2 separate regions of the Homo sapiens genome follow, and region 2 is linked to region 1. The links come from fine-mapping of genetic effects on gene expression. A gene starts in region 1. The other region holds a variant in brackets. All regions are shown on one strand. Distances are between the middles of the regions. Region 1 holds the start of CCDC32 (coiled-coil domain containing 32). Region 2 has its middle 23 kb from the start of CCDC32.

Region 1 (11,328 bases):
TGTGATCTCATTTTGTAAAAATACAGACAGACACAGGCAGATAGCTGGCACTGAAAAAGTACTGGAAGGACATATGCAAAAATGTTAACTGTGTTATCTCTGGGTGGTTAGATTATGAATGTTTTTTGGCTTTGCTAATTGTATTTTCTCTACAATAAAGGTATTTAAAAGGTAAAATTTTTTAGCCGGGCGCAGTGGCTCACGCCTCTAATCCCAGCACTTTGGGAGGCTGAGGTGGGTGGATCACGAGATCAAGACCATCCTGGCTAACATGGTCAAACTCTGTCTCTACTAAAAATACAAAAATTAGCAGGCGTGGTGGCACATGCCTGTAATCCCAGCTACTTGGGAGACTGAGGCAGGAGAATCGCTTGAACCTGGGAGGCGGAGGTTGCAGTGAGCCGAGATCGCGCCACTACACGCCAGCCTGGGCAACAGAGCAAGACTCTGTCTCAAAAAAAAAAAAAATAAATAATCAAGGTAAAATTTTTTTAATGGAGGAAAAAACCTCCATAAATCATCACTTATTACGATCTTGAACAAACAAAACTAAGGCTTAAGTCCAGGGATATGGGCTCTAGACCAGGATTTGCCACAGGCTCGCTACATGCTCTTGGGCAAGTCATTTATCTTTTCTGGGTCTCTGCTTCCTGTGGAATGTGAGGGTTAGACCAGATCTGTGCTTTAGAAATTGGGATAGGAGAGGGAATTCGTCAATGTATGATATATTGACGCAAATCGATTGATCAATGGAACAAGTTACTCCAAAACCATCCATTCCCCAAATGCTGTAATCGCCTTTTCTCCACTCACAACCATGGTAAACTAGTGTTACTGAGAGGTAAACAGTGTTACTTCTGACAGGGGTGTCTGGTACCTCATAGATGTGATGGAATTTTAAAGGAGTCAAAGCACTGGGCTAAACAATTCTAGTCTCTATCCCTGACATCTCATAACTCTATGTTAAATAGTTTAAGTAGTAGTTATAGGAACATAGGCTTTGGTAGTGGCACTGTTGATAGCCTTACCCCTGTGAGTTTCCTTAGTTTCCTCAGAGGTAAAATGGAGTGGCAATACCTACTTCACAAGGCTGTCATTAGAATTAGTGGACATACAATGTTTAACTTTGTGCCCAGCACACAGTAAAGAGACATAAATGATAGCCCCTATTATTACTATTTGCACAGAGATCTACAACGCAGGGTAAAGTGATCAGTGCCCTTGCCACAAGACGGTGTTTAAAGGAATTATGAAAATTCCAACTTCTGTCCCTTGGAAACAAGGAAGCTGCCTTGAGGAAGAGGATAAACAGGCTGAGTCCTGAAGCACAGACACCCTGGCCACTTGCGGAGGTGGGAAACGGGCTAAAATAGTGTTCCAAATGAAAGCGAGAACGCTTTAGAATTGCCATGATTTTAATCCAGTACCTATGCTTTACTAAGACTAAAAAACAAAACAAAACAAAACAAAACCCGGCCCCTTTTCCTCGCCCGCTTCTGGCCAGCCCCATCAGGACTCCACCTTGAGCACGATGTTGAGGTCCTGCACCGGCTTCTCGTTGAGTTGCAGGCGGCCCGCCCGGACCGCGGCCTCATAGTAGGCCAGGGGCTGAGCTCGGAACTCGGTACTGAAGACGTGCAGCAAGCTGTGGCCCACCCAGCGACCTTTGCAGTAGGTCCGGAAGTCAAAGTAATAGGGCCGCACCTTACGCAGGCCGCCCTCGAAGTAATAACTGGTTTCTGCAAAGTGCTCATCTCCGAAGCTCACCCCGGTCCGCCGCTTCTTCGGGGGCGGCACGACACGCTCCCTGGTTGCGCCCCGCCGCTTCTTATGCTTGCCCGGGCCTGGGGCTGCAGCCGAGGGATGCTCCCCGCCTACTGGGGCCGGCTCCACTTCCCGGCCAGCCGGCTTCGGGGGCCCGGGGGACAGCTCAACCTTCGCGTCGCCACCAGCGTCACCGTTTTGCTGATGCGAAGCCCTCAGCCCGCCCTCTGTCCCAACCTGGGTAGACACTGTTTCTGCCATTGGGCCCTTATCGCCACTCCAAGTCCTGGTAAAGCTAGGGCGCCTAAGGTCGTAGCGCCAATGTCCAAGAACCCTGAGCCATCCGCGGCGGTCCAGCCACATAACCACGCTGCCCCCACTCCACTCCCAGGGTCGCGATCTGAGGACGTCACTCGGCCCCAGCGAATCAGGGAGGCCCAGTCCCGAGGCGGGGTCTGCGATAAGTGAGCGAATGAGTGAGCTGCTCGAATTAAATTAGGTGAATTGAGTGAGCTTAGAGATGAGAGACTGTAAATGTCTCACCAAAAGTGACCTTACTCAGACGTCTTCCTATTAGGGAGATACGACGTTATTTATAAAGGAAACCCTTGGAATTGCTCCGTGTAAAGGCCATGACAGGAGTAGGTCGTGTAAATTCCGAGTAGTCCCTTGGGTCTGAAGAAACGCTTGAAAGGAGCTTTATTTAAGACAAAACAAAAACTAACAACCAGAATAAAGATTGCTAAACTCTGCGAATATACTAAAACCCACTGTATTCTATATTTTAAAAGGGTCAATATTATAGTATGTGACTTGTATCTCAGTAAGATTGTTATATATGTATTTAAAACACACACAAGCACCCCAGAAGCAATGTGTTCACACCTGTGTTTCCCCCTAACAGCATGAGAAGGATTAGTGATCCCCATTCGCCTCCCACATGCTTCCATCCTGAGATTAAAACTGCAAATAGATCAGAGGATATATGGCGAGGGTTCTTAAGTGCAAAATAAACCAACTCTGGCTAATTTCATCAGAGATAGAATTATGGAAAGTATATTAGTGCCTCATAGAATTCACAAGACAACTGGAGACTAGGCTCAGAAAAAGGGCCAAATCAAGGGAAACCAAGCCTTTTGAGAGCCTGGCTTCAGACATGTCAGGGAAGAAACCCAGTTGGGATGCAGTAGACACAAGAAACTATGTTGTGCCAAAGGACTCTTTTTCCTGCAGCCCTGCCACCCCTTGGAGACCCCTAAATCTCCCTGTGTCTCTGTGTCCCTCTTCCAAGGTTAAGAGTCCTGCAGGGGAGGACTTCCATCAGCCAAACCTCATTGCTCTGAGCCCTCACTTCCAGGGTGCCTGGAGATGGAAGAATTTAACCCTCTTTTTTTTTTTTTTTTTTTTTTTTTTTGAGACGGAGTCTTGCTCTGTCGCCCAGGCTGGAGTGCAGTGGAGCGATTTCACCTCACTGCAACCTCCGCCTCCTGAGTTCAAGCCATTCTTCTGCCTCAGCCTCCTGAGTGGCTGGGACTACAGGCACGCACCACCACGCCTGGCTAATTTTTATATTATGAGTGCTGGGATTACAGGCGTAAGCCACCGCGCCCGGCCAAGAATCTAACCCTCTTTGGTATCCAGAGTGGGATTCTTCCAAATAAGGAGGCATTTCAATGTTAGTTTGCCAAAAAAAAAAAAAAAAAAAAGACAGTCTAATTCTTATCCTAGGCATTTGTATTCTGGAGAGGAGAAAGGGAAATCTTTTTTAGCTAAATTCCTTCTTCAAGTCATTAGTCTCACCAAACTAACTGAGGGACTGCAGCTGAGGTATCCACAGCTGCAGAACTCCATATGCTGAAAAGTCTGATTCCTGACTACCTCCAGAAATAAGAGGTAGAATTCTCCATTGATTGTGGGGTATGTTAGAACCAAACTACTTCACAGGAGGGACATCATCTCTCAAGTGCATCATTTCATTAAGATATTTACAGTGAAAGCAGAACCTTATCCAAAAGAAAAGTATGTATTCTTAGCTAGCCTCTTTGCTCCATAGGATTGGGGTGGGAGAATTAAATTAGTTAATTCAAGTAAAATACTTGGACTAGTGCCTGGCAAAACTGTGGAGACAGAAAACATAGCAGAATCTTGTTCCTCCTCCCCTTCTGACCTACTAAATGAGAATCTGCACTTTAACATGATCCTCAGGTGATTTTTCTGCATATTAAAGCTTGAGAAGCACTGGCATAGACCATGTAGAGTAGACATTTGTCATATTCTGTAAACATCCAGCATCTTCCGAACACCCTTCTTTTGGGTGGGGAATTTCTCACATTTCATTACTGCCCCCAAAAGGTAGAAGCCAGAGCCTTCCCACACTCTCTTGCAGCTTGGACATAGGCATTTGACCTGGGCTCTATCTCTTAGACAGAGGCTTTGGTTCAGAGGCACACAGCCGCGGAAGCAGGCTCAGTGTGAAATCCGTGTCTAACAAGGTAGCATTGGAGGCATCTAATCTGGGAGGCCAACAGTCGGGGAGGTTCTTGTGTCAAGTACCCAATCGACGAATAATGCCAGCTATAGATGTTCAGTGGCTGTGGGGTGTTCCCTGAGCAGTCTCTCAGTGAGATTCAGATACTGTCCCTGGCTGTATAGACCTAAAGCCTGACTCTCCACTCACCTTGAGGTTCTGTGAACTATGTAATATTCTCCAATCCTGTGCTATACAATAGGATCACCATTAGCCATGTGCTGTACAATAGCCACATGTGGCTAATTAAATTTAAATTAATTAAAATTTTAACAAGTTTTGAAACAAGATCTCACTCCCATCACCCAGGCTGGAGTGCAGTGGCACGATTTTGGCTCACTGCAGCCTTGACTTCCCAAACTGAAGTGATCCTCCCACCTCAGGCTCCCTAGTAGCTGAGACGACAGACATGTGCCACCATGACTGGCTAATTTTTTGTATTTTTAGTAGAGACGAGGTTTTGCCACATTGCCTAGGGTGGTCTCAAACTGGGCTCAAACAATCCATCCACCTTGGCCTCCCAAAGTGTTAGGATTACAGGCCGGATGTGGTGGCGCAACCTCCGCCTCCTGGGTTCAAGTAGTTCTCCTACCTCAGCCTCCTGAGTAGCTGGGATTACAGGCATGCGCCTCCACGCCCAGTTAATTTTTGTATTTTTAGTAGAAACAGGGTTTCACCATGTTGGCCAGGCTGGTCTCGAACTGCTGATCTCAGGTGATCCACACCCCCTCAGCCTCCCAAAATTCTGGGATTACAGGCATGAGCCACCAAGCCCGGCCAGGAACTGAATTTTAAATTGTATTTTAGCTGGGCGCAGTGGCTCACATCTGTAATCCTAAAACTATGTTGTTTTTGTTGTTGTTGTTTTCTTTTTCTTTCTTTCTTTTTTTTTTTGAGACGGAGTCTTGCTCTGTCACCCAGGCTGGAGTGAGAACTATTTCCTCAGCCAAGTTACTTGGCTACTGATGGTTGGCTGATGTCTTTCATCACGTGTTTCTTGGGAGAGAGTAACTGGTGTTGATCCTGGAAGCTGGGGATGGGGAGGGGTCGATCTCAATGAACAAGCTGGTATCTATCCCCTGAAGGATATCAAAGGTCATCTCCTTTAACAACTACAACAACAAAGCATTCTGACACACACTTCTTATGACCACTCTCTCCTTTATGTACTCTGGCCACACTTCCATCATATACTCTATAATCCTCAACGCCCCCCTCCTTTTTTTTTTTTGAGACAGTCTTGCTCTGTTGCCCAGGTTGGAATGCAGTGGTGCGATCTTGTCTCACTGCAACCTCTGCCTTCCCGGTTCAAGCGATTCTCCTGCCTGAGCCTCCCGAATAGCTAGGATTCCAGGCATGTGCCACCATGCTCAGCTAATTTTTGTACTTTTAGTAGAGACAGAGTTTCACCATGTTTCACCCAGGCTGGTCTCGAACTCCTGACCTCAGGTGATCCACCTGCCTCGGCCTCCTAGAGTACTGGGATTACAGGCGTGAGTCACCGCGCCCGGCTGTCTATCACTGTTTACTGTTATTTGTAAACTTTTATGCCTCCATGGCGGACCCCCTTCCTACACTACTAAGCTGTAAGGATCTCCAGGACTTATATCAAGTCATATGTGTCTTAACTTCACGCTTAACACAATGCTTAGAACACAGCAGGTGCTTGGTATCTATTGACTAAATGAATGAAGGAAAGCTTCATAATTTGATGAATGAGACACGAGTCTCCTGGGAGAGTAAGGAAAGAAGCCGCCGAAGTGCTCTAATTTGGGTAACGAAGGGGTGAAATTTTTAGAAGACAAACACCGACAGAGAAAGTTGTGGAGGAGGTGAACTGGCTCCGGCGACTAGGAAAAGTCAAAAGTCTTGGAAACGACTTCCCTATCCAAGCAGGGACTGGAACCCTGGATCTGCAAGGAATCAACCTGGCCCTCGGGAGGGGAGGGGCAATGCTCAGGGCACGTGACTCCACCGTTTCCCGGCAACCAGAGCCCCGTCCACCGCTCGCCTCTTGCTGCTCCTCACTTCTTCACCACGCTGAGCTCCTCTCGACCAATCGACGCACAGAACATCGTCGGGTGGGAAGGTAGTTGGAGGACTCCTGGGCTCCGTCACTAGGGGACTCCGCCCCTCCCGATTTCCTCCGGGCTACAGGCGACAGAGCTGAGCCAAGCGTTTACTGGGCAGCTGTTACGGTAAGTGAGGAGGGGCTGGGGTGCCCAGCGTTTTGGATCTCCCACTCTGGCCCGGCCCCGGAATACCACATAGAGGCCTTGGGACCTGATTCATCCCGTCCAGACAGCCCTAGAGACCTGAGCGACTGAGGCCTGGGATCTGGACGCCGGAATTTCCTGCGTGGTTCTGGACGCCCTGCCCTGGGGTAAGGGGCCATGCGGGGCTCTGGTGTGAGCAAAGTTTTGGTTTTGGGTGGCTTTAGACGAATTCGGGTTGGGGGTTCACTGTAGCGCTAGACATCAGTTCACCCAGGACCGCCGTGTCATAGCTGTCCCTTTTACTTCCGGCCTTTACGCTGGCTGGGCTCTGTCTCCTGGCATTATTCAGACCTTGCCTCAGGCAGCCTTCCTGATTTCTAAGTCTCCTCTTGAAAGAAGGTGTCAGCCTGTCTCATATGCCTAGATAGTTATAAAAGCCTCCAGGCTCTTTGCGTAGCTTTTCCTACCTGCCCGTGCTTGGGCTGCTTTCGTTATATTTTCCAAACAAGCAGGATGGTATTTGATAAAAACATGGATTCTGGAGCAGCACAGATCTGGTTTTCCTGTCAAGGATTCCCCACATATCAGTAATGTGCCCTAGAGCAAGTTACCCTTCTGAACTTGTTTTTTCATCTGTAAAATGGTGAAAATACCTACCTTTCAGTGATTGTATTAAAATAAGAGCATGAGACATACGGCTGAACTGCATGCGCTGAGCACACAGCCCTTGCATTGTAACAGTACTCTCTGACAGACACTTTTTACCAAGCAGGATCTTCATGTATATGGAACTGTGGAAAGACCTTTAGTCTGTGTTCTGTTGAAAACAGAATTTAGGGGCCGGGCGCGGTGGCTCACGCCTGTAATCCCAGCACTTTGGGAGGCCGAGGCGGGCGGATCACAAGATCAGGAGATCGAGACCACCCTGGCTAAACGGTGAAACCCCGTCTTTACTAAAAAATGCAAAAAATTAGCCGGGCGTGGTGGCGAGTGCCTGTAGTCCCAGCTATTTGGGAGGCTGAGGCAGGAGAATGGCGTGAACCCGGGAGGCGGAGGTTGCAGTGAGCCAAGTTAGCGCCACTGCACTCCAGCCTGGGCGACAGAGCGAGACTCTGTCTCAAAAAAAAAAAAGAAAGAAAGAAAGAAAAAAAAACAGAATTTAATTGACTGGAGATAGAACTGTTGCATTTTGGAGATCTTTGGAGAAAAGTGCAGGCTGGTTGTCCAACCTGGAAATGCCCTACAGATTTGTGTGTGTGTGTGTGTGTGTGTGTGTGTGTTAAAATATATGTAGCATAAAATTGACCATTTTAACTATTTTTGTGTGTATGATTCAGTGGTGTTCACATTGTTGTGCAACCATAACTACCATCCACCTCCAGAACTTTTTCATTTTCCCAAACTGAAACTGTGTACCCATTAAACAGTAATTCCCCATTCTTTCTACCTCCCAGCCCCCAGCTCCCACCATCCTATTTTCTGTATCTATGAATTTGACTACTCAGGTACCTTATATAAGTGGAATCACAGTATCTGCCTTTTGTGTATGGCTTGTAGGAATTCCATTTTTATTTTTATTTTATTTATTTATTTGTGAGACAGGGCCTCGCAATGTCACCCAGGCTGGAGTGCAATGGCGTGATCACCACTCACTGCAGCCTCTATCTCCTGGGCTAAGGTGATCCTCCTACCTCAGCCTCCGGAGTAGCTGGGACTACAGGCATGTGCCACCACACCTGTCTAATTTTTGTATTTTTAGTAGAGATGGGATTTTGCCATGTTTCCCAGGCTGGTCTCGAACTGCTGGCCTCAAATGATCTGACTGCCTCGGCTTCCCAAAGTGTTGGGATTACAGTCGTGAGCCACTGTGCTCAACCTTATGCTGTATTCTTAAAGCCAGTTCTTACTCACTTGAGCTTCTGTTTTATAGCTCAGATTCCAAATGAAAATGTTTGAGAGCGCTGACTCTACAGCCACAAGATCTGGCCAGGATCTCTGGGCTGAAATTTGTTCCTGTCTGCCAAATCCTGAACAAGAAGATGGTGCCAACAATGCATTCTCAGACTCCTTTGTGGATTCTTGCCCTGAAGGTGAAGGCCAGAGGGAGGTGGCTGACTTTGCTGTCCAGCCAGCTGTAAAGCCTTGGGCTCCCTTGCAGGATTCAGAAGTGTATTTAGCATCTCTAGGTAAGTTTGACGGCTCTAGGGAAGCATATTGAAGTTCTGTTACATCAAACTTGGTTTCCTATTCTTTTGTGTTGTTGTTATTCCTGTCACACGTATCTGTCAGATATAATTCCAAGGGATGTTTCAAGCCGGCTGTTGGGAAGCAGCCCCCTTTTCCTTGAACAGATCTTTTTTTATTTTTATTTTTAATTTTTTGAGACTTTCACTCTTGTTGCCCAGGCTGGAGTGCAGTGGCGTGATCTTAGCTCATGGCAACCTCCACCTCCCGGGTTCAAGCGATTTTCCTGCCTCAGCCTACCGAGTAGCTGGGATTACAGGCGCCTGGCACAATGCCCGGCTAATTTTTTGTATTTTTAGTAGAGATGGGGTTTCATTTCACCATGTTGGCTAGGCTGGTCTCGAATGCCTGACCTCAGGTGATCCACCTGCCTCGGCATCCCAAAGTGCTGGGATTACAGGCATGAGCCGCCGTGACTACCCGAACAGCTCTTAAAACAGTTTTTGTCACTTCCTGCCTCTGCCCAGTTCATCTAAATTCTGTGTTTGATTTCTTGGCATTCTGTAGAACCCTCTTGCCTACTGTTGGTTGCCCGTATATTCAAATAACTCAAAAGTGTTAAACCTTATGCCATCCTGCAAGAAAATGTGATGGCCCCAGGGCTACATGTGGATTTCTGATGCTGGAGTTTGAAAAACTTACATAAATAGATTGATTGTTGAGAATGGGAGCATATTGACATAAGATTCATTCTGCCTCTTGTTAGCCATTTTATTTTAAAAATATTTCCTGAACACATTTTCAGTACCCTGTCCTGCGGCCATAGTATAAGTATCTAGAGAGATTCCAAACACAGGAAAGAGATTCAAATTGTCCCATGCTAGGGGAAAAAGAAATATCAGTCTAGGGCGGTGAGGGGCAGTCTTTAGAATTGTAATATCCTTTTATTGTGGAACAACCATGAGATTCATCCATGTTTCACAAAGCCAAACCTGGGAATAAGGCTTACCTTGGCCTCCTGAAGTGCTGGGATTACAGGCGTGTGCCACCGCGCTTGGCCCTAATTTTTTTATTTCAATAGCTTTTGGTGTACAAGCGGTTTTTGGCTACATGGATTAATTGTATAGTGGTGAAGTCTGAGATTTTAGTGCACCCATCACCCAAGTAGTGGACATTGTACCCAATGTGTAGTTTTTTATCCCTCACCCCTCTCCAAACCTCCCCACTTCTGAATCTCCAAAGTCCAGTATACCACTTTGTGTTTTGTTTTTTTTTTGGTTGTTGTTTTGTTTTTTTTTTTTGAGACGGAGTCTCATTCTGTTGCCCAGGCTGGAATGCAGTGGCACGATCTCGACTCACTGCAACCTCCGCCTCACGGGTTCAAGCAATTCTGCTGCCTCAGCCTCCTGAGTAGCTGGGATTACAGTCGCCCACCACCACGCCTGGCTCATTTTTGTATTTTCAGTAGATAGAGAGTTTCACCATGTTGGTCAGAGTGGTCTCGAACTCCTGACTTCGTGATCCACCCACCTCGGCCTCCCAGAGTGCTGGGATTACAGGTGTGAGCCACCGTGCCCGGCCAATATACCACTTTGTATACCTTTGTGTACCCATAGCTTAGCTCCCACTTATAAGTGAGAACGTATGGCATTTTGTTTTCCATTCCTGAGTTACTTCACTTAGAGGATAATGGCCTCCAGCTCCATCTAAGTTGCTGCAGAAGACATTATTTTATTATTTCTTATGGCTGAGTAGTGTTCTATGGTGTATATATTCCATATTTTCTTTATCTACTCATTGCTCGATGGGCACTTAGGTTGGTTCCATATCTTTGCAATTATGAATTATGAAACATGCGTGCAGGTATCTTTTTGATATAACGACTTCTTTTCCTTTGGGTAAACACCTCGTAGTGGGATTGCTGGATCAAATGGTAGATTTACTCTTAGTTCTTTGAGAAATCTCCATATGTTTTCCATAGAGGTTGTACTGATTTACATTCCCATCAGCAGTGTATAAGGATTCTCTTTTTACCACATCCGTGCCAACATCTATTGTCTTTTGACTTTTTAATAGTGGCCATTCTGGCTGGGGTGAGGTGGTAGCTCACCATTTTGACTTGCATTTCCCTGATGATTAGTGATTTTGAGCATTTTTTCATATGTTTGTTAGCCATTTGTATATCTTCTCAAATCCCATTGAGAAATGTCTATTCATGTCATTTGCCCACTTTTTGATGGGATTGTTTTTTTCTTTCTGATTTGTTTGAGCACCTTGTAGATTCTGGATATTAGTCCTTTGTTAGATACATAGTTTGCAAATACTTTCTCCCATTCCATGGGTTGTCTGTTTACTCTGATTATTTCTTTTGCTGTACGGAAGTTTTTAGTTTAATTAGATCCGATTTATTTATTTTTGTTATTGTTGCATTTACTTTTGGGATCTTAGTCATAAATTTTTTGCCTAGGCCGGGCACGGTGGCTCACGCCTGTAATCCCAGCACTTTGGGAGACCGAGGCAGGCAGATCACAAGGTCAAGAGATCGAGACCATCCTGGCCAACATGGTGAAACCCTGTCTCTAATAAAAATACACAAATTAGCTGGGCGTGGTGGCGCACACCTATAGTCCCAGCTAC
Region 2 (11,865 bases), 24 kb after region 1:
AAGGCCACAAGGCAACCAAATAAAGGAGAGATAGTGTTAGGGGAGCTGAGTTCATAGAAATGAATAGGAGTGAGAGGAAATAGAAGGAGAGATAGTGACCCATCAACTGTTTCAACTTTGGCAAAGATGTGGCTGTCTTACAAGTGGGTAAGAAAAAGACAATAAAAATGTTAACAAATTTGTAAAGTCCACATGTGGCCTAGCATATCAGTTTAGAATAGCTGAATAGGATTCTAGACACGAGAGTGCGTGCAAAGGCAACCTTTTTTGTACAGGCCTCCCCTGGGGTTCATGGAGAAAAGTGGGAACAGGTCAGGAAAGGGAGGGACTGTTCTTCCTTGGTGATGCATGCATGCAGAGGTTGATCAAGGCGGCTGCTGGTGGAAGGCAAAAAGCCTCAACTTCCACAATCCTCTCCTTTAAGCAAAAGCCTTAAGCCATGGCGGGAGGGGTAACAAACTTTTGCTTCAGTGGGAGGAATAAAAGCAAAACTTATCTGCTTCTGGTGAGGTGTCAAAACCTTCTTGCCCTTCTTGAACAGGCAAAGACCCATTGCTCCTGGGACTAGAAGCAGAAACCCCCTACCCAGGGGCAGAAGCAGGAAACTGTCCTGGGCTGAAGATTCAAGCGAAGGTCCACTCTGTTGTGGGGAGGGCAAGAACTTTGGCTAATCCCAGATGAACCACATATAAGGCAGAGTTTGGCTTCCATAGGGAAGAGGGACAGAAACACTGAGAAAGTCCCACTGCTGAAGCTCGGGTGCCTAGGACCTATTTAAGACTGAAGCCGGGCCAGGGTAACAGAATCAACCCTGCCCTGCCCTGCCTGAGCCTGGCACCAGATCACAAGCAACAGAAGTCTTCTGCCAGCTGAAAAGCTGAGTGTGGGACAGCAGCACTGAGGAAGCCCTGACACCCCAGTCCCCACTCTAAGCAGCCCACCACTAGAGGAATTTGAAACCTGGGGTGCACTGAAGGTAATGAGAGCACAACCAAACCCAAACCCTGTCCAATTCCTAACAAGACTGACTCAACCCCCCAGACCAACAGGCTGACAGAAGAGGCAGCCCCACTCCCAGATACAGATACTATTTACCTCAGTCTCTGCTGTTTTATACACCATGGGCATTCAGTTAAAAAACTGCAAAACATAGGTCAGGCGCTATGGCTCACACTTGTAATCCTAGCACTTTGGGAGGCCGAGACAGGTGTATCACCTGAGGTCAGGAGTTTCAGACCAGCCTGGTCAACATGGCGAAACCCCATCTCTACTAAAAATACAAAAATTAGCCAGGTGTTGGTGGTGTGTGCCTGTAGTCCCAGCTACTCCACAGGCTGAGGCAGGAGAATCACTTGAACCTGGGAGGGTGAGGTTGCAGTGAGCTGAGATGGCCCCACTACACTCCAGCCTGGGCAACAGAGCAAGACTGTCTCAAAAAAAAAAAAATTGCAAAACACACAAAAAGACAAGAAGAAAACAACCCAATCCATTATCAGAAGATGAATCAACAGAACCAGACTCACAAATGACACAGATGTTGGAACTATCACAGAGGGACTTAAAATAATTATAATTACTATGGGGTCTGGTGGGGAAGGGTGGGCAACTTGCATGAACAGATAGGGAATTTTGGCAGAGACATGGAAACTAAGAGAAAGTGAAATGGGGCTGGACGTGGTGGCTCATGCCTGTAATACCAGCACTTTGGGAGGCCAAGGCAGGAGGAGCACATGAGCACAGGAGTTTGAGACCAGCCTGGGCAACATGAGACCTCATCTCACCAAAAAATACAGAAATTAGCCAGGCATGGTGGCTCGTGCCTGTGGTCCCAGCTACTTGGGAGGCTGAGGCAAGAGAATCACTTGAACCCAGAAGGCGGAGGTTGCAGTGAGCCAAGATCATGCCACTGCCCTCCAGCCTGGGTGACAGGGTGAGACCCTATCTCAGAAAAAAAAAAAAAAGGAAAGAAAAAGAAAAAATAAAGTCAAATGGAAATGCTAGAAATAAACATGATATTAGAGATGAATTGCTTCCACAGGCTTTTCAGTAGGTAGGCATAGGTGAAGAACCAGTGAACTTGAACTGGTCAATAAAAATTCTCTGAACTAAAACACAAAGAGAAACTGGGATGGGGGAAAAGCAAAACAAAGCAAAACCTATAAGAGCTGTGGGACAATAACAGTCTAATATACATGTGATTCCAGCCTCAGAAGGTGAAGAGAGAGAGAATGAGGCAGAATAAATCTTTGAAGAGATGATAGTTACATGAATGAGGTGTGGCGGCAAGGCTAGAGAGAAGTGGATATGGGAGCATTTGCAAGGAGAACCACTGAGGCTTGGTCACTGAGTGGAGGGAAGTGTGGCACCTGAGTGTCTGTCTTGGGAGCTGCAGGCTCTCAGCAGGTAGTAGTGGGTGGTTAGCAGGTGGTGGTGCCAGGATGGAGAGCCAAGCCTAGCTCTCCAGTGCCTGTGCTCTCTGCTGGTACCCCACACCACCTCCTACAGGCCAAAGTGGAACAGTAGTGGGCCTTTGCTCCTCGATTCCCTAGCCTCCAGCCCCAGCCTTTCCTAAGCCCTCAATGTACTATTCCTATTAGTCAATGTGTGGCAGAGAGATGTTCATCTCCCCCCATTCTCTCCACCTCCTCTGTCCCAAGTGTTGTGTCACACATTGCTCTAAAGGTTTTCTTTTCCCAAACAAACTGACTCTCTCCTCCCTTCATTTTGACGTAATCCACTTTTAAAAATTACTTCTTTAGCAGATAAGTAGAAAGGGAGGAGGCAAAGGTGAGAGGGATTGTGTGTGTGTGTGTGTGTATGTGTGCAGAAGAAAGCAGATAGGTTACTGAGAGTTTATGAGCATTTTAAAGAACAGATATTTCCAGGACCAGTTTTGGCTCTTTAATCTTACATCCTTTGGGGATGAGACCATCAAATATTGGCTTAGCAGAATGCCAAGGTGCAGTGTGGTCTTCAGCATGGTGCCTGATCAAGGCAGACAGGATGCGGAGTGTACATTGGGTAAGAGTATGGTAGAGGAGACCCACAGTTGTTAGAACAATCATCCCAAAGGTAAACTCTTGGATTGATAAACTGACATGTTGTTGGTTTCTTTTTCCTCTGTTCAGCTCAACATCTTTATCAATGATTTGGTTGAGTGAATAGAAGGTAACCTTATCAAAAGTGAGAGGAGTAGGTAATTGAATAAAAGAATAACAATTCTAAAATTTTTCTATAGACTAGAGTGATGGGACAAAGTATGAAACATGATACAGATAAATGTGAAATCTTTCATTTGGGATCAGAAATTAACTACACAACTAGAGGACAGAGAAGAACAGAGTATTTATTAGTTTGTTCTAGTGACAGAAGCCAAGAAGCCAGACTCTGGAAAGTTTTCCAAGGCTGTTGAAAAAAAAAAATCCAAGCCGGACTCAATTCTAGTCTAAGACATATAGAGCTGGCTTCAGTTAGCTGGACCTCAGGACTCCAGCAGTATCTTTAGCCTCTCTTCCTCCCACTGTTGACTCTCTCTGTGTGTTGGTATAGCACAGGGAGCTCTGGGCTGACATGATTCCAGTTTAGGAAGTCCAGAGGAAAGATAACACTTTCCAACCCCATATAATAGATGCCAGGGGGCTCCGCACAGTGGTTTAGGCTTAACAATCCCAGCACTTTGGGAGGCCAAGGTGGGAGGATCACTTGAGCCCAGGAGTTTGAGACCAGCCTGGGCAACAGAAAGAGACCCCGTCTCTACAAAAAAAAAATTTAAAAATTAGCCTGGCGTGGTACTGCATGCCTGTAGTCCAGCTACTCGGGATGCTGAGGTGGGAGGATTGCTTGAGCCCAGGAGGTTGAGGCTGCAGTGAGCTATGATTGCCCTACCGCACCCTATCCTGGGCGACAGAGCAAGATCCTGTCTCAAATAAATAAATACATTCCAGGGGAGGGACTCAGATTGGCTTGGCCTGGGTCACATGCTCATCATTGGAGCACTGACTATGACAAGGGCAAGATCTATGGTTAGGGGTACAGGATACTGTGGTAAACAGTCCCACCAGAACCATATGAGAATGGGAAGTGAAAGAGGATTGCTGTTGGCTGAAGAAAGGGGAAAGTGGTATGGAAAACCCCAAACAGGTGTTCAGTGTCTTAACAGTTCAATGGAGTCAGCAGTGTTATGTGCTGCTAAAAAAAAGTTATAATTCTAGGAATCAATAGTGGAAATGTACCTGTGTACCTGGGACATAGTAGTGTAAAAATATATTCTGCAGTGGTCATGCCTCTCTGAAAGCATCGTCTGGGCACCACATTGCAAGAGGATGTTCTGCAGTGAGCAGGTCTATGCAAACCTACCCCTAAAGGCCAAGAGAGCTGAGGGGCCAAAGAAACAGGCTGACAAGCCCGGGTGCAGTGGCTCATACCTGTAATCCCAGCACTTTGGGAGGCTGAGGTGGGTGGATCACGAGGTTAGGAGTTTGAGACCAGCCTGGCCAATATGGGGAAACTCCATTTCTACTAAAAATACAAAAATTAGCTGGGCACGGTGGCGTGCGCCTGTACTCCCAGCTACTTAGGAGGCTGAGGCAGAAGAATCTCTTGAACCTGGGAGGCAGAGGTTGCAGTGAGCCAAGATCATGCCACTGCATTCCAGCCTGGGCGACAGAGTGGGACTCTGTCTCAAAAAAACAACAACAACAACAACAAAAACAAAACAGAGAGAGAGGCTGACGAATCTAGTTTCTCAGAGATAAATGCTTAATAGAAACTTATGCACAGAAGCCATACCTTGGTTGGTCACGAGATGGTGGTTTCCATGCCCGCCCTCCAGAAAGTATCCTTTGTATAACAAGTTTTTAGGGGAAAACATGTGCAGCTGGTCACACCTCAGACTTTATTGCAAGTTTCATGACCACTGGGGAGGTTAGATAAGCATCTTTATGAGGGGTTATTTATGCTACAGGCATTCTTTCTTTTCTTTTTTCTCTTTCTTTTCCATTTTGTTTTTTTTTTTAGACAGAGTCTGGCTCTGTCACCCAGGCTAGAGTGTAGTGGCATTATCACAGCTTATTGCAGCCTCAACCTCCCGGGCTCAAGCTGTCCTCCCTCCTCAGCCTCCTGAGTTTGCTGTGACTATACCCCTGGCTAATTTTTTTTTTTTTTTAAGAAAAGTCTCAGTATGTTGCCCAGGCTGGTCTCATACTCCTGGGCTCAAACAATCCTCCTACCTTGGCCTTCCAAAGTGTTGGGATTATAGGCATGAGCCACCCCACCTGGCCAGGCATCTTTTTTTTTTTTTTCTTTTGAGACAAAGTCTCGCTCTGTCCCCCAGGCTGGAGTGCAGTGGCAACCTCTGCTCCCGGGTTCACACCATTCTCCTGCCTCAACCTCCTGAGTAGCTGGGACTACAGGTGCCTGCCACCATGCCCGGCTAATTTTTTGTATTTTTTAGTAGAGACGGGGTTTCACCGT[A/G]TTAGCCAGGATGGTCTCAATCTCCTGACCTCGTGATCCTCCCGCCTCAGCCTCCCAAAGTGCTGGGATTACAGGCATGAGCCACTGCGCCCGGCCCAGGCATTGTTTCTTGACCTTGCCACAGGAATGCCTTGGTATGCAGGAGTCAAACATCAGTCATTATGGCAGTTTTGCTTCAAGGTGGTGCCATTCTTGCAACAGGGTCTTTTCCTACAGAGGAACATCGACAAACTGCAATGCTCCCTAGAGGAGGGGTCCAGGGTGAGCAGGCTCAGATCGAGTTATTTGAAGACAGGACAAGACAATAAGATTGTTTTCCATAGAAAAGAGATTTAAGAGAGACCCGGTTGGCTTTAAAATATTTGAAGGAGTATTGGGTAGAAAGCTGAGACACACTGAAGTACAAAGGACAAACTAGGACCAATGGCAGGGAGTTTCAGGAAGACCAATTACCATTCAGTGTTAAGAACTTTCTAATAGCTGTTCAACAATAGGGTGGCCTTGTAGAAGATAGTAATTCCCTGTCACTGGAGGTGTGTCAGCAGATGTCAGAAAGGTTGTAAAGGGGATTCCTGCATTGTGTAGAAAGTTGGATCAGGTCACCCCTAAGGTCCTTTCCAATTATGAAAATCTGTGGTTGGCTACTGGAGACCTATGGGGGCTTGCTGCTGTTAAGTCAGCCCTGGTCTCCCCAGCATTTGGGAGGGAGAGCTGGTGAGTTCTTCTTTCTCCTCCCTAGATAATAATGACAAACACCTGATCACCTACCAGTCAGTGGTCAGAGGCAGAGCCCTCCAACAGTTCTTATCTTAGCTCAACCCTGAGGGACAGACTCTTGGGTTGGAAGATCACAAAAAGGTCGCTCTTGTGCTGTTTTATGTTCTCTGAACGTGTACCTTGAGACAAGGACCTGTATGTAGGTGGCTGATTTTAGGGGGTGAGCAGGAGTGAGGGAGGGAGGAGAATGAGACAGCTCCCTGTGTTGAGTAGGTCCACTGTGGGTAGTTAGGGCTGTCGCCCTGGGATCACTCTGAGGAGACATAAAGATTATGGCTTAGGCTAAGCGCGGTGGCCTGTAATCCCAACACTGTGGGAGGCTGAGGCGGGTGGATCACCTGAGGTCAGGAGTTCGAGACCAGCCTGGCCAACATGGCAAAACCATGTCTCTACTAAAAATACAAAAATTAGCCGGGTTGGTGGTGTGTGCCCATAGTCCCAGCTACTTGGGAGGATGAGACAGGAGAATTGCTTGAACCCGGGAGGCGGAGGTTGCAGTGAGCCGAGATGGAGCCACTGCACTCCAGCCTGGGTGACAGAGCGAGACTCCGTCTCAAAAAAAAAAAAAAAAATATTACAGCTCAGAATTTTGCCACTGACTGACGGGGCACATCTGGGCTGCAGTTCCACCAGTGCCCATCCTTCATTGGTTGAGGTTTGCTCTTTGGAGGTATTAAGCCCCTGCCACTTTCAGGCAGCCCTGCAGGGGCTAAGAAAAGCCTCACGCAGAGGAGAGAGGAGGGAAACTGAGCATGTACCAGAAGCATCCGCTGCAGCTGCGGCTGGTCACAGAAATGGGCTGGAGGGATGTGAGGCAGCGCGTGAGCATCTGGCACAGTCTCTTTCCCGCCCAGGCCAGGATCCGCCTTCCAGGGCTGTGCGGGACCTTTGGTTTTGACATTTTGGTCTCTGTGGCCCAGTGTGGGAAGTGGTTCTCCCCGGGGGTGAGTTCAGCCCAGCCTAGTCTGAATGTCCACACACTGCTCTCTTGGGTTCAAGTCTTCCTTCTTGGCCCAGCTTCTCACTGGGCTCTCTGGACTGAGGGCACCAGGGCAATGGACGCTCCAGGCTGGCACCTGTTCAACACTCATATGTGAGCTTGGAACATGGTGACATTAGGGGCACTGACTCTACTGTCCTTTCACACTGTGGTCAAGGTTAGGATAGATGAGAGACTGGCCCGGCCCCAGAGTTTCCTGTATTGACAGCCTAATCATTTTCTAAGAAGAAAATGCTGGGCTGGGTGCAGTGGCTCACACCTGTAATCCCAGCACTTTGGGAGGCCAAGGCAGGCAGATCACCTGAGGCCAGGAGTTGGAGACCAGCCTGGCCAGCATGGTGAAACCCTGTTTCTACTAAAAATACAAAAAATTACCCAGGCATGGTGGCAGGCGCCTGTAATCCCAGCTACTCGGGAGGCTGAAGAAGGAGAATAGCTTGAACCCAGGAGGCGGAGGTTGCAGTGAGCCGATATCACGCCATTGCTCTCCAGCCTGCACAACAGAGCGAGACGCCACCTCAAAAAAAAAAAAAAAGAAAAAGAAAAAGAAAAAAATGCTAAGAAGAACGACAAAGAATTCAAAGACCCTGAGAAGCCTCCCTCAAAGCCTTGGAGACACTTCAAAGATGGGAAATCATGGCACTGATGTTAGAGGCAGTGTTCCCTGCCAGGCACTAAAGGCCAATCCAGTTGGCCCAGCCCTCCTGTTACCACTCCTCTGGATTGCCCTAGTCAGAGCTCTGAGCCTGTCTCTCTCTTCCCTGATCCCTTCTCCCACCCTCTGGGCCCCACACTCTTGTCTGGTACTCACTGTTCAGTCTGTCTTTTCCCTCCTCTTGCCCATTCATTACCTCCAGGGGCATCATCATCTCTGAGGTTCACACTTATTCCCTAGATTTTGCCGCAATTTGAAAATCAACCCTTCACACTGTTCCAATGCCCATTTCACCACCTGGGCGAAGTGAGGCTGAGTAGGTATTTATGATGAGTTTGGGGTGACATGGAATCAAGGGCAAGGAGCGGGGTGTGTGTGTGTGTGTGTGTGTGTGTGTGTGTGTGTGTGTGGCAACAGTTTGATCACTCTTATTAGGGGAGGGCCCCTCTTAAGGTGGCAAATGTTGTCCAGCCAGAGGAACAGCCTGGCCAACAAATCAACTCAGACAGACCCTGCCTGACATCTCAGAGAGCAGGAGGCCAAGAGAGACCTATTGGGCAAGGAAATTTCCTGGGATGGGAGCAGGGGCAGCGGAGAGCTGACTGCCTTGGTCTCTGCTTTTCCTCTCTTCCTCTGCCTGGCCTCTTGCTGTGGTGCCACGGGCCCCCGTGTCCCCTGTGCCTCCGTTTGTCTCTTGTCTCTGTCTCAGGCTCCACTTTGCTTTATTTTTCCTGCAGTCCTGCACGGCTGAGGCTGTGTCGACACCTCACTTCCTCGCACCTTCGCACTCTCGGTGCTCCTATGTATGCCTGTCTCTCTTTGACTCTGTTAGTGTGTGCCTCTGACTGTATCTGTCTATCTTCCTCGTCTCTGTCGGTCTGTCTTATTCCCATAGGCCCTGTAACTCCAGAACCCCTGGCAGCAGCAGCTTTTCTGAGGATGGAGCGTGGGACAGCCACCAGTGTGCTGAGCAGAGGTGGCGAAGGACATTTCCAGCCCAGCAGTCGTCATGGTAACAGCCAGGGCGGGCCAGGCAGGGATGTGCAGAACCATGTGGGATTGACCTTTCTGTGGTGTCAGGTTTGAGCGGGAGCTGGGGAGAAACAGCAACAACTACTTCCCTCTGGCCCAGCCCTCAGGGCTTCTGGGCTGGGCTGAATGAAGAAAGGGAGAAGCTGAGAAGTGGGACAGCTGGCGAGAGAGCCAAGAGAGAGACAGGGCTTTAGTCAGAGCCAGCTAGAGAACCCATGGGAAGAGGGACAGGCTGGTCACCAGCAGGCTCCTGCGGTGAGCCCACCTGTGGCAAGCACTAGACCTCAGGCCCCCAGTTGGCAGCGCTCATGGGTGGGTACTAAAGGTCAGTTCCCTATACTCAGAGCTCCCCCAGACTCCTTCAGATCAAATGTCACCTTTTCCATATTGCAAAAGCCTTTATTGCTCTAAGGAAAACATGCTAAATTAAAAAGAACCAAATTATTCTTTTAAAAATAGAAATATTTTAAATGGAAAAGTTCAAAGAAAATAAAAGGCTTTCCAATCCTCCCTCTGCTTCTCCCAGCTCTAAAATTCCTCCACAGTTGCTTCCCATGCCTGCCAGGTTGGAGGAAAGGGACAGGCCTGGGCCCAGCGGCCTCTTCTCTGACAAGGGCACAGAAAGGGAAGCCGGATTGGTCGTTGCCTGAATTTGAGGGGGGCTTGGACTCACAGGCTTCCCGCTAATTCGAACCAGTGAAGGAGACTCATTTCCCTCTATGCCCCCTCTTTCTCCTATTGGGGCGGACATACAGGCAGCAGAAAGAGGTGCCCACAGGTGCCCTGTGACCCCTTGAGGGAGAGGCGAGGGGTGCAGGGCAGCCTCAGGTGAGCTCCATGGAGAACATAGCTTACCAGTGGATCCCATTTCCAGACTTTCAAATCATGGCCATGCAAGAGATCTCGAGCTTTCTGGGACACACTGCTATGGAAAACAAGACCATAGCCTCAGAATAAAAAATGTGGTCTTCTTATTTACTGAAAATCTACCTTCAGGAAAGACATGAAGGGGGCACTCACCAGCCAATAGGTGGGTAACTTAACACAGCAGCACCACAGGCTTTCTTTTATACAGGAGTACAGTCCCCAAATCCCCTTGGAGAACTGCCTCTGGGCCACTTGTACAGGGGAAGGGGACACTTGGCAGGAGAGGGGACCGCAGACCTTGTAGTCATAAGTTAGCATGCTGCTAAAAGACTATTTGAAATGAGTGCTGATTACATATATTTAAAAGTGGTCAGCATTACTGAAGCTCCAGCTTTTTTTTCTGAGGCGGAGTCTTACTCTATCACCCAGGCTGGAATGCAGTGGCACCATCTCGGCTCACTGCAACCTCCACCTCCCAGGTTCAAGCAATTCTCCTGCCTCAGCCTCCCCAGTAGCTGAGATTACAGGTGCCCACTGCCATGCCTGGCTAATTTTTCTATTTTTAGTAGAGACGGGGTTTCACCATGTTGGCCAGGTTGGTCTTGAACTCCTGACCTCAAGTGATCCGCCCACCTCAGCCTCCCAAAGTGCTGGGATTACAGGCATGAGCCAACGCGTCTGGCCAAGAGCCAGCATTTTTGAGACTCGAACCTTTCTCTGACTGACATGTATTGTGGAGCTCAAAATAAACATTCTGTATTTTGGGAGTTGGTCATCACTCTCTAGTTATGCTCCTGTAGAGCTATTACTGAACCTCTGGCCTCTTCCCTGGGTTCTGGAAACCTTCATGTACCCGTGGCCCCCAGAGCAAGGGGTAGGAGACAGGAAGGCTGCTAGTGCCCCGATGGTCCCACACGAGGCTGGGACCTTGGGACACAGGCACTGCATCATTCACTGTTCCCTGCATGGGCTTCAGGAGTGGATGAGAGCCCAGGGCCAAGCCCCTTCCTCTTTCGTTCTGCCCAAGCCCCTTCCCTCCAGCTGCCTTCCCTCCTTGAGTCCCTTGATTCCTCTGTGATCCCCCCTCCAGCTCAGCACCTGGGGCTGGCACCACTCCCCAGGGATACTGATAAAGTCACAGAGCATCTGCCCAGCGCCTGAGGTGGTGTAAGTTGGGGAAGGTGGGTCATCCTGTTAGTTGCTCCTGCCAGGCCTGGAGCCCCTGGTGGTCCTTTAGAATTCTAGATTCTCTTGGTTCCTTTCTCCAGAATCCTTCCCTTCTCGCTCCACTCATGCTCTGGGCCAGGCCCACCACGTCTCCTGGCAGCTGACTATCTCATGCCACCTGCCTTTGTTCTCTATTCCCTTTGCCAAAACCATATTTTCTGGTGAATCCCTCTTCTACTTCAAGGTTCAGTTCAAGTGCCACCATATAAGTGAAGCTGTCCTCAGTCGACCCTAGGTGACTCTGTGGCCCCATGGAACTTTTTCTCATCACCATCGTAGCAGTCATGACTCTGTTTTGACCTCCACTTCTCCACTGGAGAGTGTGTTCCGTGGAATGAACTGGCTTGTAGTGTGACCTGTGAACCTCCAGAGCTTGGCTCTGTGTTGCTCATTGAGTACTTGTTCTTGCAGTGGGCCCTTGCCAAGAGAGGCCCCTGTTCTGGGATGTGAGCCAGAGAAGGTCCGAGACTCATAATTTCATGTGTCATACTCGTCCTCCACCCAGCTCCCCCTGGCCAGATCACAGCCCCCTCCTGCTGCAGGGCCTGTAGTGCCAGGCTGGTTGCAAGACAGGGGTCCTCACCTCTGAGAAAATCATGGCTTGGCCCATTGGCACCCCACCTGGGATGCAGAATGGAGCAGCAACAGCTGGCTGGTGTCTGAACGCTATTTCCCCAGCCCTGGGCAGCCATCTCCTGTAGCTGTTCCCTCATCCCATGGCTTTACCAACCCCTCCTTGCTGCACTGGAGAGCCTGAGAGCAAGTAGGTTCAGAGTGGGAAGACAGGGCTAAAGGCATCTTCCCGGTCTTCTCTCCTTCCCCTTCCTCCCAGCAG

What was found.
Region 2: its variant is fine-mapped to the expression of CCDC32 in whole blood (TOPMed, PIP 0.97).

The regions. Positions count from the first base shown.
Region 1 is chr15:40,560,137-40,571,464 of GRCh38, reverse strand. CCDC32 (coiled-coil domain containing 32) reads left to right here and starts at 6,423. Exons shown (of 4, transcript NM_001080792.4): 1 at 6,423-6,489; 2 at 8,438-8,693. The coding sequence starts at 8,450. RPUSD2 (RNA pseudouridine synthase domain containing 2) reads right to left here and starts at 2,166. Exons shown (of 3, transcript NM_152260.3): 1 at 1,522-2,166. The coding sequence starts at 2,127. RefSeq lists enhancers at 1,535-1,584, 1,334-1,833, 1,895-2,224, 5,201-5,495, 5,975-6,024 and a silencer at 4,069-4,248.
Region 2 is chr15:40,536,290-40,548,154 of GRCh38, reverse strand. It overlaps a transcript of CCDC32 not described here. Among named protein-coding and RNA genes, the nearest start is that of CCDC32, 23 kb to the left of the region's middle. RefSeq lists an enhancer at 4,119-4,218 and a silencer at 4,369-4,468. The variant A/G (reference allele first, on the strand shown) is at 5,473.